Homo sapiens: one gene and its partners. The protein of the gene in region 4 interacts with the protein of the main gene of each other region in a biochemical or structural test. Each region holds a gene or a part of one and is shown on either strand. Other genes may lie near its edges.

The links. Proteins that work in one complex are often made in the same cells at the same time.
Region 1: the proteins of SCN8A (region 4) and SHANK1 interact in a test that uses a peptide from one of them, tested with the Homo sapiens proteins (one large-scale study listed by IntAct).
Region 2: the proteins of SCN8A (region 4) and FRMPD2 interact in a test that uses a peptide from one of them, tested with the Homo sapiens proteins (one large-scale study listed by IntAct).
Region 3: the proteins of SCN8A (region 4) and LDB3 interact in a test that uses a peptide from one of them, tested with the Homo sapiens proteins (one large-scale study listed by IntAct).

The regions. Positions count from the first base shown.
Region 1 is NC_000019.10:50,713,303-50,716,802, forward strand, and holds part of SHANK1 (SH3 and multiple ankyrin repeat domains protein 1), read right to left. Parts: coding exon 3,363-3,500; intron 3,177-3,362; coding exon 2,973-3,176; intron 2,429-2,972; coding exon 2,357-2,428; intron 989-2,356; coding exon 880-988; intron 648-879; coding exon 496-647; intron 1-495. UniProt on the Homo sapiens protein: Seems to be an adapter protein in the postsynaptic density (PSD) of excitatory synapses that interconnects receptors of the postsynaptic membrane including NMDA-type and metabotropic glutamate receptors via complexes with GKAP/PSD-95 and Homer, respectively, and the actin-based cytoskeleton.
Region 2 is NC_000010.11:48,236,697-48,240,196, forward strand, and holds part of FRMPD2 (FERM and PDZ domain-containing protein 2), read right to left. Parts: intron 2,997-3,500; coding exon 2,909-2,996; intron 1,428-2,908; coding exon 1,295-1,427; intron 1-1,294.
Region 3 is NC_000010.11:86,671,511-86,675,010, reverse strand, and holds part of LDB3 (LIM domain-binding protein 3), read right to left. Parts: intron 1-3,500. UniProt on the Homo sapiens protein: May function as an adapter in striated muscle to couple protein kinase C-mediated signaling via its LIM domains to the cytoskeleton.
Region 4 is NC_000012.12:51,597,733-51,601,232, reverse strand, and holds part of SCN8A (sodium channel protein type 8 subunit alpha), read right to left. Parts: intron 1-3,500. UniProt on the Homo sapiens protein: Pore-forming subunit of a voltage-gated sodium channel complex assuming opened or closed conformations in response to the voltage difference across membranes and through which sodium ions selectively pass along their electrochemical gradient.

The DNA.
Region 1 (3,500 bases), on a different chromosome or scaffold from region 4:
AGTGCATTTGAGGCTGTGTACGTGGGGAAGGGGCTGTATTTGCATGTGAGAGAGGAGGGAGGGGAGCTGGTGCAGTGCTGGTTTGGAAGGGTAGCTGGGGGGCTGTTTTCAGGGTGTGTGTGGAGGGGCTCTATCTGGGGGCATAGCAGGGAGCTCACTTCGTATTTTAAGGAATGAGAAGGGTTTACACCTTGGGGAGACAGAGGCAGATTTGGTATTAAGCTGGGCCACAGGGGATGGAGACGTTCTGGGTGTTTAGGGGAGGAGGCCGTGCCCGGGTCTGTGTGATGTCAGCTATAGCCCAGGTGGGTGCATCTGGGGGGCCTGACAAGGGTGACAATAGGGGCTGTGTCTCAGTCTATGGAAAGGGGCTTTGAACTGGGGACATGAGAGGGCCTATTTTTAACTGAAACCAAAGAACTGAGGTTTGAGAAAGAACAAAGGGAAAAGGAGAGAGGGCCCCATGGCGGGGATGGGGGGTCCCCGAAGCCTCACCGTGAGTGCCAGGCAGTGTCGGGCGCATGCGGCCTTATGCAGTGCGGTCATGCCATCCCGGGCCCGGAAGTCAATGTGGGCCCCGCCCAGGCACAGGGTTCGAATCACCTCTACAGAGCCTTCGGTCTGGGCCGCCAGTGTCAAGGGGGTCTCTGAAGGGCGGGAAAAGCTGGTCACATGAAGCCCCTTCTCCTCCCCTCCATCCCTTCCCATTTTCCAGGCTCTGCAGCTCTCCACCCCACAGCCTCTGGCCCCGTGGCCTCCCCCTTGGACAGCAATGTGTTTGGGAGACACCAGTCAGGAATGGATGTGAATGCAGATGGCACCCCTGCTCCCCAGCTCTGTCCTGGCCCTGAGGTCCTCCTGATGCGCACCCCTCCCTACCTCCCGAATCCGAGTCATGGTAATTGGGGTCCAGCCCCTTGTCCAGCAGCCGCGCCACCTTGTCAGATGTCCCGAGCTGCACATACTCCAGGAACTTCTTCAACCCCGTCTGAGCCATGGGCAAAGAGAGAGAAGACAGGACAGTCAGGAGCAAGGCAGAGAAGCAGGGTCCTCAAGCAGCGACGTCCAGTGAAAATATACGTGGAGTCACATACGCCATTGAAAAGCTTCTAGCAGCCTCCTTTACAGAGAAAATACCCAGCCCTTTGGGAGGCCGAGGCGGGAGGATCACTTGGGCCCAGGGGTTCGAGACCAGCCTGAGCAACAAAGTGAGACCCTTATCTCTACAAAAAATGCAAAAAACTAGCCAGGTTGTGGTGGCACACGCCTGTAGTCCCAGCTACTCGGGAGGCTGAGCTGGAAGGATCCTTTGAACCCTGAAAGGTTGAGGCTGCAGTGAGCCATGATTGCACCACTGCAGCCCGGGTGACAGAGCAAGACCCCGTCTCAAAAAAAAAAAAAAAAAAAATCAGGGTGGTTGGGGGTGAAGTGTTAGTTGTGTTGAAATTCGTGTTAATGATATATGTTATTTAACTGATATAGCTACAATGTTACTGTTTCAACAGGTAATTGAGATGAAAATTATTAATGAGGTTATTTAACTTTTTTTTGGTACTAAGTCTTTGAAACCCAGTGTGTATTTCACACTCACAGCGAGTCTTAGTTGGGACCAAACACACTGCAAGCACTCAGGAGCCACACTTGGCCAGTGGTTCCCAAAGTGGACCGTGAAAGTCTGGAGGGATGGAACATTTAGGGGAGGAAAGAGTTCAATGCATGCTGTGGTGGGGAGAGGGTAGACAAGGAGGGACTGGGAGTTTTTCCTTCTCAAGGATCAAGAGTTCTTCATTTCTGACCAAAGCAGTTCCCGATTTCCTCCCAGCTCTCACCATCGAGACACAGGACAGACAGGGGCTGAGGACTGGCGGGCAAGGTACCAGGAGGACAGATATGGCTGGAAAGGGGGGTGTAATGGTTGGATTTTGCAGAGATTCAGGCTATGAGGTTGGGAGAAATGTAGCCTGTCTTTGAAATAGACTCTAGGCAGAAGGACCTTCAGTGTCAGGGTCCTAGGCCAAGGTGGGGAAGTAAAGAGGCCTTGGATGGATATGGGGGGAGGCAGGGGAAGAGAAGGGAGACTCAAAGGAGGCCAGGTGGGAATGATGTGGGCCCAGGCAGAGGGATGAAGGGCAAAAGAGGAAAGTAAGAAGGGGTTGTGATGGGGATAATGGGGGGTATTTGTGGTTGTCTCAAATGTGGTACAGCATCCCAAGTTAAGCGGGGGCAGTGGCCAGAGGGATCGCTGGCTTGGGGAATGTGGAGGTCTATTGGGAAGAGGTGGGGAGAGAAAGTGGTTGGGTAGGGGGCTCCAGTGGTAGGGGGCTATAGGGGATAGATGCCAGCAGGGTTTTCTCACCTTCGTGTGCAACTTGGCCAGCTGCTTCTCATCCAGGTTGGTCTGTTTGTAAACTCGGGTCTTGTATCGGAACTGAGGTCAAGGGTAGGGTAGTGAGAGAGACACAGAGACTTGGAATCAGGGGCCTGGGGAGAAGGCTTGGGGTAGGGGAAGGTCTGATCCCCTTCTAATTCCCCGGGGTAGCTCAGGGTGGGAGTGAAAACAGCCCTGGAACCTTGGTCTAGGCGGTAGATGGGTGGCAGTGGCTTTTCCGACAGTGCTGGGTATTATGGTATATGTGCACTGCAACCCCTGCCTTGAAGGAGGAGGAGTCTGGACCCCACAGGGAATGTTCTAGAGTGCCTACTGTAATTGGGAATCCTCCCCCAATTTGATGGGTGAGGAGAAGCTTGGGGCAGGAAAGTGACTTGGCCAAGGCCACTTAGCTGGTCAGAAGCAGAACAGATGGTAATTTGAACTCAGGACTCTCTGACTTCCCTGTGATGCTTAGAAGGTCTGGACTCGCACACTGGGTGCCCCCTCGTTAAGGTTTCGAGTGTGTTAAAAAGTGGGTGGGGGGCAGATGTGTTTTAGGGCATGCCTTCTCTTATCAGTGAAGGAGTTGGGGAAGCTTCACCTCCAGGTAGGGGACCCCCTTCTCAAAGGACTGGGGGTACTCCCGCAGCAGCCTCTCCTCCTCCAGGAAGTTGGCATCGCGGCCGGAGGTGGCCGGTTGGAACAGGCCATAGTTGAGCACATCCTGCAGGCTCTCGCTCAGGGCACAGAGCACCTGCTGCTTGGCCGTCCAGATGGTGGCATCGGGGTTGAAGCGAAGGCATTTCTGGTTGGGGAAGAGATAGGGGCTAGGGTGGGCCAGGGGCCAGAGGAGAGCCTGAGGTGGGTTGGGAAGTGAGCCAGGAGCTGAGTGTGGGGGTGATTCCTGGGAGGATACCCAGCACCAGTGGACTCCCCATGTCGGTTGGGGCACTGTCCCTCTCCTGCCGCTGGCCAGTGGGCAGGTACTCACTGTCTGGTGCAGGTCCGGGATGCCAATCCTGAAGACCATCATGCTGAAGTGGGCGTCGTCTGGGACGGACATTGAGCGGCCCTGGAGGCCTCTAACAGAGGCCAGGCTACCAGGTGCCCCACTGCCCTGGCCCCGGGT
Region 2 (3,500 bases), on a different chromosome or scaffold from region 4:
TGGGCTGAGGCCCCAGCTGAATGGTACATCTTGGAGCAGAAGTCTTACAGGTGGGTATAGGGTATCAGCAACATTCTGGCTCTTAAGTTGGGTACAGGGGTGTTCGGGGTGAATTATAAGTTTCATAATTTACACAGAACTCCATCTTTTGTATGTATCAAAAGTATAAAATGTATAATATAAATATAAATGCAATAAAAATACTTGAAAAAACAAAAATACTTTTAGATTTAGATGAGCTGAAATGTTTTCTAGCTCTAGATGTTGAATCAATAGCTTAGTGGGCACCTCTTGTTCTCAGTGTGTTTGTATTACACTTGACCCAGAAAACACTGCAATACCCATCACTAGCTAGACCCAGCTATCCCCCTGTGGGGTGCATATTCTCAACCCATTTTACAGGTGAGGAAGTTGAGGCTCCTCACCTTTAAAAAAAAAAAAAAAAGCTTAAGAAGCTCACCTGAGTCATATAACCAGCAAGAGATAGGGTTGGGTAGGGCTTCTATAGTGCCCCCAAGGGTACCTAGCAGGACTCTTGTCCCAAGAGGCCAAAATTCCAGCCCAGAAGTGACTTGTGTCCTGCAAGAGTTCCCAATAGAAGTATCTCTAGTGAGTGATCAGGAAGAAAAGCCAAAGGAGGTGGACAAAGCCTCTCAGAAGCCCTCTTCACGCCCTCCACCAAGTTCATGGAGGCCAGAGAAGGGCCAAGGAGGACAGTGCGGGCCAGGCCAGCGTATGGGAACCATAGGCCAAACAGGAAGAGGGACATCCTGAGGCTATTTGGAGCTCAGCTCAGTCAAGGGACCTTAACTAACTTTGACAGACAGACAGGCACATTCCGCCTAACCCTATTACCCTCTTAGGGTTAGCCAGCTGGAAGGATAACTCTCTCCTCCCTATAGAAGCCCTCCCTGCGGCCCTGGATCTATGCTCCCACCTTTCACCTGTGCAGAAGGCCCCTTCCAAACACATTCTGCCTTGTCAGTTCTCGAATCATGTAGCACGCTCTGCCACCACCCTGCGCACCGGTGGCTTCCTCTAGGGTGGGACCCAGCATCTTTAACCCTACATCTTATACAGCGTCCCCCATAGAGCCTTCCCCAGTGAGGCTACTCAGTGAATGCCTATGCCCTAAGTTGCAAATTTCAGGTTTATGTTAGTCCAATCCTATAAACCTCAGCCCAGGGAAGTTGTCCCCTAGAAGACCCTGCCCATTTTCAGCCACCGTGCCAGCCACCCACAGCTCCCTGCTCAAGCCTCCTTGAGGAGTGTCCTTCAGCCTTATTTTGCTTACCTTGCTCCTTCTTTGCAGAAAACCCCTCTGAGAAGGAGTTGTTGGCCATGAGCTGTCTGCTGCCGAGTGCACAGATCCAGAGCTGAGCCTCCGGCCCGCCTGCTGGTCCTGGGGATCTGCTCCTGGAAGAGCGCTGGCCAGGGGTTGAGAAGGGGTGAAGCACTTAGCAATGGCAAGGGCTTCCATGGCATGAAAGACCACCCGCACAGGGGCTCAGTTGGGCAGGGTGCACCCACTGATGCATGTCACCTTCTCCCCCACCTATGGGGGAGTTATATCCATTTTTCAAGTGGGGGAAGCTGAGGCCTGGAGAAGCCAGGCTGCACAGCCACTGGGGTGGGGTGGGGTTGGAGGTACAAGGCACAGTCGACTTCTCCACCCCATGGCTTTACCTCTCTGTTTGTGGTGCCAGGACCCCAGGTCTAGAGCAACCACCCAGCAGGTCATGGGACTGCAGCAGTTCTGGCTTCTTTAGAATTTGATATGTTGTTCAAAATATTTTGACAATAAAATATATTGTTTAAGGAATCAGGGGGTAAAAATTGTTTTCATTGGGAAAATAAAGTTTTAAATGGCAGGAAAAAGTATTGCAAGATAAACTCTACGATATCCAATCAGGGCGTCAGCTGTGGATTTGACATCAACTATGACAAGACACTGTTACAGCCCTCAACAGGTCACCATGTGAATAAATAAATCACCCAAACTTCAAAATAAACACCGTTCCAGGTCCAGGAAGATATGAGCCCATCTAGGTTTTGATCTGATTCAAGCATCCTAAGTTAGACAATTGCAAAAATGTCCACAGTTCTTCTCCCTGATCTGCACCCTTTGCAATCCGACTTTGCAGCCTCCTGCCATCAAGAGATGGAGTCTATTTCTTACTCCTTGAAATGGGGCTGGCCTTTAGGCCTGATATGGCCAACAGAATGAAGTGGAAATGATGGAAGACCAGTTCTGAAGGCTTTATGCACCTTGCCGTCCTCTCTCCTCTCTCTCCTCTTTCTCTCTGTCTCTCTGTCTCTCTCTCTCTCTCTCAGTTCCTCTCTGTCAGTTCTGCCATTGTCACGAGAACAATCCTAGGCTGACCTGCTGGTGGAGGAGAGCCAGAGCTTCCCAGACAATGGCCATTCACCCCGCAGGAGAAGCTGGATAGCCGAGCCGAAGACAGTCAAAAAGGCAGGAAGGCTTTCAGCAGAGTCTAGAAGACCTCCCAGCTGAGCACAGCCTAAATGACCAACTCACAGAATCATGAGCTAAATTCATAATTGTTGCTTTTAGCCACTGTGTTTTGTGGTTGCTTGTTATGCAGCATGGTATGGCAATGGATAATGGCAACAATATTGAGGCATGTTGTTGCTCCGCCACTCGGCCTGAGTATGGTTCCCAGAGGAAACAGGATGCCCTGACAGCACAGCTGCCACCAGGCCCCTCATTATCTTGGCTTCGGATCTGCTTAAATGTGGCTTCTTCATCTGTTAATGGAATAGCATTGGCATTTTCTGGAGGAGCAAGAGGCTTCTTACTAATAATCAGTAAAGAAATAAGGTACCATAGCCCCCACACCTATGTCTCACATCAAGTTCACAGCACCCTTTAGGCCTTGCTGCTTACCGGTTAACAAGGAGGCTGCAGTGACTGTGTGTCAAGGTGCTCCAATGGGGCTCTGGTGAGCTCTGGGTCTCCGTGCTTCTTTCTGAAACTAATCAAGCAGCATGGTAGAGGGTATGGGCAGAAGCCAAGATCACGGCTTTCTTAAATCAGGCATCTCAGAGCATGAATGGCATCATGACTTACTAGCTGTGTGACCTTGGTGAAATTCCTTAGCCTCTCTGAATCTGTTTCCTCATGTAGAAAACAGAAATGACAGTTACAGAGGGTTGGAGGGAGGGTTACAAGGGAAGATAAAGCCTAATGGCAAAGTGCACTTTGTTTTAGAGACAACAAACAATAACATTAATTTTTTTAAAAAAAGCTCAGATTTAGTTGAAAAGTAGAGAACAGTAGATTTGAAGATTATTCCAAAAACCACTCTTTTAACACACCCAGAACAATAACTGAAAAAAAAATCAAGTTTTTCTTTTCTTGTTGTTTGTTTCAATTTGGATTTTCTCAACTTGGACAGTTAGAACTCATTTTTAAAGTTTTCATTTGATATAAATAACTGTGTTGTGTCCCCAAATAAGACTTTCCTGGGAACACAGGT
Region 3 (3,500 bases), on a different chromosome or scaffold from region 4:
CCCTCAGGGTGGGGGCTGGGGGTGCTGATATCCTCCTCTAGGGAGGTGCTTCAGGCAGGATGGAGGCAGGGACCCTATGGATGATCAGGAGCCATCGGATGCCTTCACCCCACCTCAGGAGCAGCCTGCCTGGGTGGGTTGGAGGGGGGCACCCTCAGACCCTTGCCCAGAGTCCAGGGCTCATGGAGAGTGCAGTCCAGGCACGATGCTTCCACGTCTGTCTTGTCTGACTCCATCCTCCTCTTTCCTTTCTGTGTTTCAGAAAGGGCCCAAAGCACCCAACTCCTTGGAGCTGTGGTTTTTTCTTTTTAATCTTTCTAGCCGCCTTTGAGCATTTAAATGCCTCCCTTGAATGAGTGTTTCATTCCCACTTCACATTTCAGTCTTCTCCCGCCAATGGGCCCCTCTAAACCCTGGAAACCCAACCCTGGGTGCAGCCTAGAATGGCCTCAGGGTGGGGCACCGAGCTCCTGTCTCCAAAGCCCCCAAGAAAGGCTGCAGGTGTTTGGAGGCCAAGATCAGCTCCCTGCCCCCAGGAGCCCTTCCGCCTTGCTGGGCCAAGGTCTTAGGGCACTTCCAAGGGCAGCCCAGGGAGAGCTGGTGCCAGAGCCACTTGTGAGTGCTGGGGGCTGGGGGCGGGGAGGCAGCAAAGGAGGAGCACAGGTGCCAGTATGGGCCGGGCCCCTGACTTCGGTGCCAGCCTCCAAGCCCTCCAGTGTCAAGAGAATGACAATGCCTTTCTCGGGATTGTTGTGAGGATTATGTCGTTAAACAGGGGATTATGTAAGGAGGGTGCAGAGCTGAGAGAGTTTCAGGAAAACTCCAAATCCAGGAGGCACAGTGCTGACCCCATCTGCTACCCCCAGAAGGTGTGAGGCTGGCTGGCTACATCCCCGGGCTCCACAGGAAACAAGATCCACAGCTGGCAGAGGGTGGAGCTTGAGGAGCCAGCCCTGACTGACCAGTTCTGAGCCAGCCTGCTGTCCCTAGAGGGGCCTGGGTGTTGGGGGGAGGGGAGGAAACTTCTGTCCAAGGCCCAGGGGAAAGAAGGCACCAGTGAGGCTTCAGACGCACCCATGCCATTGGCTCCTATTTTCCCAGTTCCCTGGCAGCAGAGAGAGCAGCTGGGCTCTGCAGACGTTTCTGGCCATCATTCACTCCCGGTGTTCAAACCAGGCAGGCCCCTGCCTTCCTCCTCTTCTAGATGTGCCAGTGTAGATGTGGTGGGTGGAGGCTGGGGCAGGTGGCAGATAAGTAGGAAGGGTACAAGTTTCAGCAGCTCCCCCTCCCCACACTCCCAGGCTGCCTGCCTGGGTTGGGGCAGGTGGGACAAAGTGCATTTTCATTGTATGATTAAATTACTGTCTTGTCCTGCTCTGCTGCCTTCCCATCTGGCCTCCCCTGGGGCTTTGCTCATGCTCACCCTCTCACTGGAACCTTCTGTCTCCCCATGGTCCCACTCCCCAACTCCACCCTGGCCGATAAATAAGCCGGAGTCCCCTCAATGCTCAAAAAGCCTCTCCCTGCCTGCCTGGGTGGCTCCAACTGGCTCCTGTCATGTCTCCTTTCTGCACCTCCAGACTCCTCCAAGAAGTGACCCACACATCCTGCCCCCACTGCCGCTGCCTCCCACCTGCTCACACACAGCCGTCTGCCTTTGGCCCCATTATTCCACGCATATCAATGACCTTCTGTGTCCAAAGCCACGGGTCACTGCCCCCTCTGTAGCTGACCACACCTCCCCTGGCTTTCCTCAAGTGTCTCTTGAGTCTCTCCTGCCTCTCTTCCTCCTGTCCAGGTCCACAGTTCCATTTGGGTCTTGGGTGTGGCCAATAAAATGCCCTCATGGGCACTGGCTCTCAAGGGCCCCCAGCAAGGCCCATTCTTGTGTCCAAGGATGGTTCCTGGGCAGAGGTGGAGCCTGGTCCCAAAGGGGTGCCAAAGCTGTGTTTGGGGGTGGGAGGGCTCAGTGTAGAGGAGGGTCTTTGCAGTCAGGGGCAGCCTCTGGATGAGAGGGGACCATGCAGAAAGGGAAGGAGACTCAGGGAATTGGGGAGCTAGCCCCCAGCAGAGCCTGGCCCAGCCTTTCTCAAACAGCCCTGCAGTCCTGACACTGGCTACCCCACAATATCTGTAGGCCCGGAGCCCTGGGGCTGCTTATGCAGCTGCCCTTGCACGGTGTCCTGGCCCAGGGGCCTCCAAGGGTCCAATTCATTCCCCAGGACCCAGCCAGCCTCATGTCCTCTCCTTTTGGATCCCTCACAGAGTTAGATGCAGTTCTGAGCAGCCCGGAGGACCTGGCCTGGGGGACCTCTAAGAATGCATTCCCCAGCTGTGAGCCTCTGAGCCTCTGGCCGTTTATCTTCCCCTGTTGATAGATGTTGCAGGGAGGCCCCTGCCAGCCCCACTGAAGCCCTCGGAGGCTTGCCTGACCTTCAGTGCGGCTATAAACAGCACGGCCTGTCAGCACTGCTAAGAGCTGCCCAAGAAACAGCACTGCGTGCTCCAGCGGCCCCGAAATTCCAGGAATTGCCGGCACAGCTACCCCAGAATAGTCTCAGCCTGTCCCCCTTCCTCTCCCCAGAGACCCTCTGTCCTCAGCATGTTCCCACCACAGCTGGGAGAGTCTGATAAATACTGGAACCGAAACCCACAGAGAAGAGGCCTCTGAGCTGGTGCTCCAGGTGAGCCTGCAGGCGGGGTGGCTGAGACCCTAGGAAGAGAGGGTTTCCAGTAGACAGGCAGGCCCCTCCTGGGCCCAGGCTCAGCCCCCGACTCCACCAGTCTCACAACCAGTCCCAGTAGACAACAGGTGGAAAGTTTTCACAAGTGCCTGTTAGAAAGAGCTCTCACAGGTGTGGAAGGCATCATTTTATTTGTTTATTTATTTATTTATTTTTAAGATGGAGTCTCACTCTGCCCCCAGAATGGAGTGCAGTGGTGCGATCTCAGCTCACTGCAACCTCTGCCTCCTGGGTTCAAGCTGTTCTCCTGCCTCAGCCTCTTGAGTAGCTGGGATCACAAGCATGTACCACCACACCTGGCTAATTTTTGTATTTTTAGTGGAGACAGGGTTTCACCATGTTGGCCAGGCTGGTCTCAAACTCCTGACCTCAAGTGGTCTGCCCCCTCGGCCTCCCAAAGTGCTGGGATTACAGGCATGAGGCACCGCGCCCAGCCTGCTATCCCCATTTTAAGGGTGAGAAAAACTGAGGCCGAGCAGGTAAACAGACTTCTGAGGTGACACAGCTGAGAGCAGCAGAGCCTAACAAAGCATACTCCTCTTCCCCAAGGCGGAGGCATGAGAGGCATGAAGAGGTGAGACCCCAGACCACAGCCCCAGCCTCTGGCCAGCTGCCAGGGCAGAGGCCTTTGGAGCTGCTCCCTCTCTGGGCTGCTCCCCCTTCTCCACTTCCTGGAGAACTGGCTGGGGTGGGGTGAAAGGGCAGCTCATGTTGCAGGCCCAGCCACACCTGTCCAGGATAAATAAAGGCATTTCC
Region 4 (3,500 bases):
CTTGCATGAGAACATCCAGATGAATAAAACAGATTGCCATCATTCAGTTAAGTGGTGTTTATGGACTTTCCTCATCCCAGGCTACCTTAAGAATGCCTTTCCAAGAGACTATTGTATAACAGTTCTTAATTACTGTTACTTTGAGCATTCAAACTAGGAGAAAGGTATGCACTTATAATGGGATTGCACAGAGAATCTCCTAATAGAATTACTGTAAGGGTAATTTGGGTAATACCCTAAATAGAGTGCTAAATTTATTAACATCTTGTACATGAACTGTGCCTGCTCTACTGGTTCCACAGCAAACCATGGGGACTTCTGCCAAATGTCTGAGTGCAAACTGTGGTAAATGTAATGGAATTTGCAAGAACTCAGTAACTTTCGTGGTGAGAAGAAATATAATTTTAACAAATTAAATGAGATTTAAAAATTGCATTAAATTTCTAATTTTTTTTCTCTTGGTGTATTCTATTATTTTGATGTCCATGTTCTGATAATCTAGTAACCCTTTATTTTTTCTCATTCAATGATCATTTCTGACGAGAAAGGGCAGTAGCAGAACCCAAGCTCCCTGAGTTCTGCCTTTGCTCTAAGTTACCACTGTATACTCAAGTTGTACGTTAGGGCCCTCTGGCCACCGTCTTGTACCCCAGCTATACCAAGAAGATCATGCAAGTCAAGTCTGACATTTTTCATACACGGCCTAAGATTCAGTACCTGAAACAGAAAGCAACATCACTGGCTGATAAGGCCTTTTCTTTCCCTCTGCTTTCACCTACTAAAATCCTTTCAGTTACTACCTTTAACTCAGCCTGCAATTTCAAATAGTATGGCTGTCATGAAGCACATGGGATATAAACAAACAATCAAAAAATCAAATATACTGAGTTTCGGTAAGGACAAAAGAGTCATTTACCAAGTCTATAAAAAGGTATAGAATTCTTGTTCCTTTATCCTCCAAACTGAAGGTGAGTTGAGAATGCCAACGAAAATGACAAGTTAAGTGTCTATGAATGGACAGAATGTAAAACTCCAAAACAAGGGTAGAGACCCACAAACGAAGATTAAATAATCTTTATCAGTGAGAGCTTAGATAATAAAGTTCAGAAGATTCAAGTTTTCCTACAAGAAATAACATTAAAAGCTCAAGAAAACCCTCTGCAGAGAAACAATTAGAAAATTAGAAATAAAGACAGCTTGTTAACCAAAATGCTATGGACCAGACTACCATGGATTACAGAACATACTTCCCCAGATTTTCAAAATAGGAGACTCTCTATCTCTAATCTTTAAAACAGTAAAATAATCTTTATTCCCTCTCCCTTTTCTCCCATGTAAAGTCATTCACTGAGTTCTACTGAGTCTTCCTATAAACTATTTCTAACATTAGAAAAACGTTAAACACACACATTCATGTAACACACATATACAAAGTTATATTTACTTTCCTTCCTTCCCATCCTTATAACCACTACACTACTCCAACCCTTCATCACTACACAGCTGGGACAAATCAAAGAGCCAACTAAGTGGATGTCCATTCCTTGCTCTATTCCATCCAATTAGACACTGCTGCCCAATATTCCTAAAACACTACAGTATAGCTTTGATCATCTGTCATTCTATACTCTCTAAATTCTACATTCTCCATGTTATGAATGAAACTTCAAAAAGTCCTTAATATTTGGCTAACTCTATCCTATCTTTGCAGGCTTATCTGCCACAAGGAGATTCTCACTGCTCCCCCAAAACACTTTGTACATTCTTGCCTTCTCACTTTGGCTCACACTGTTCTACCCAACCATTCTGTAAAGCCCAGCTCAAATCATGCTTCTTCCATCAACCTGTCTCTAATCATACCAACTTGAAATGCTCTCTCTTTCCTAAAAAATCAATTTATTAACTATACCATTTATTTAGCAATAAATCCTTTCCAACTTTTTAATCATCAACCATTATGAAAATCTTTTCTTATTTAACATTTTGTGTTTATGACTTATTTCACAAAATAAATAAGCTCCTAGAACATAAGGTCTATCTTTTATATATCCCATAGTTGCTACTCGCTAAATATTTGTTGACTGATGTGGTCAAGCAGGCGATTTAGAATTCACTCATAGACAGCAATGAACCAATAGTTCTCAAGGTTATGTCTCCCCCTGCACTTTTATTTTTAACAGGTAATTCTATAAGGAAAACCCTAAAAGCAATGTAGGTTAGTAGGAAAGGCTGCTTCAGCCCAAACTAACTTGCACATTAAATAAGCCAAGAAATTAGAATATAAATTTTACTAAGAAAAATAAAACAGAGGCATTATGTATTTCTTAAGGAAAAGGGGTAACTAACTGATCTAAGATGATCTAGAATGAGAATCCAAATCCTCAAATTATTTTAAGTCTTCCTTAAAAGACAATGGAACTAACTGTGAGGAGCAGGGGGAGACAATATGTATATGTGCATGTATGTATGCAGGAAGCATTACAAGAGAAATTAGTAACAGTAATTGCTATTATGGAGTGCATACTGCATGACTGGGAGACAGTAAAAGAAGACTTAACTTCGAACTTTTTGATTTTTGAATTTTGTGCCTCTGTTAAATATTCAAACAAACATTTCAAGACAATGGAAGAGAAACTGTCAACAGAGCCTTCTGAGAAAATGTTTTTGTATTAAATGACTAAAAATCAAGAGGAAATGAAAGAAACGTTTAAGAATATTACATTTTTTTCCATAAAGCAAGAAAATATTCTCCAGTTTTCTCAATGCAGAGATCAGATAAAGAAAGCAATTTGCAGCAAAGTTCTAGCAGAGCTAAGAATAAAATAAAACTAAACAACAACAACAAAAACCACCTTCCCAAGGTTCTGTGCCCTGTCCAGCAGATGAGGATCTGGTTCAGTAATACGGAGGTGTACCCAAAGGAATTGTTGGAGGGGAGTGAATACCTACTCTTAAAATATGAGCAGTTCCCCACGTTCACATCCAAATCCCCTTGCCCATTTTCACTCTGTCATTCACCTTCTTTTGCTTTCTCCCTATGATGATTCGTCACACTCCAAACACTTTCTTCCCTCCCTATCACAATACTCATCTTAAAAAATGACTAATTATCTTCAAGACATCTTTCCTACAAACAAGGCATTATGCCTCTTTAGAGTATTCACCAAATCACAGGAAATCCAATTGAGAAATCTGTAGCAAATGTGATTTCTGGGTATTCTGACCTCTGAGAATGCCCTATCAGTCTCATTTGCAACCTGCTTGATTTTTTTCCTGCAATTTAATAATGCATTAATTTTTTTCACTTAAAAGCATTCAGCTTCCTGCTAAGACAAAAAAACAGTAGTGAATGTAACACAAAAGCCTGTTGCATTATCCTTAATTGAGGAATTAATCCTGAAACAAGGAGCTAAATATATAATAAATTAAGCCCTACTTGTTTACAGGGTTGTTGCTCACTAAAATGAAAGAAAAATGCTATTTACACCAGCTTGCAGTGG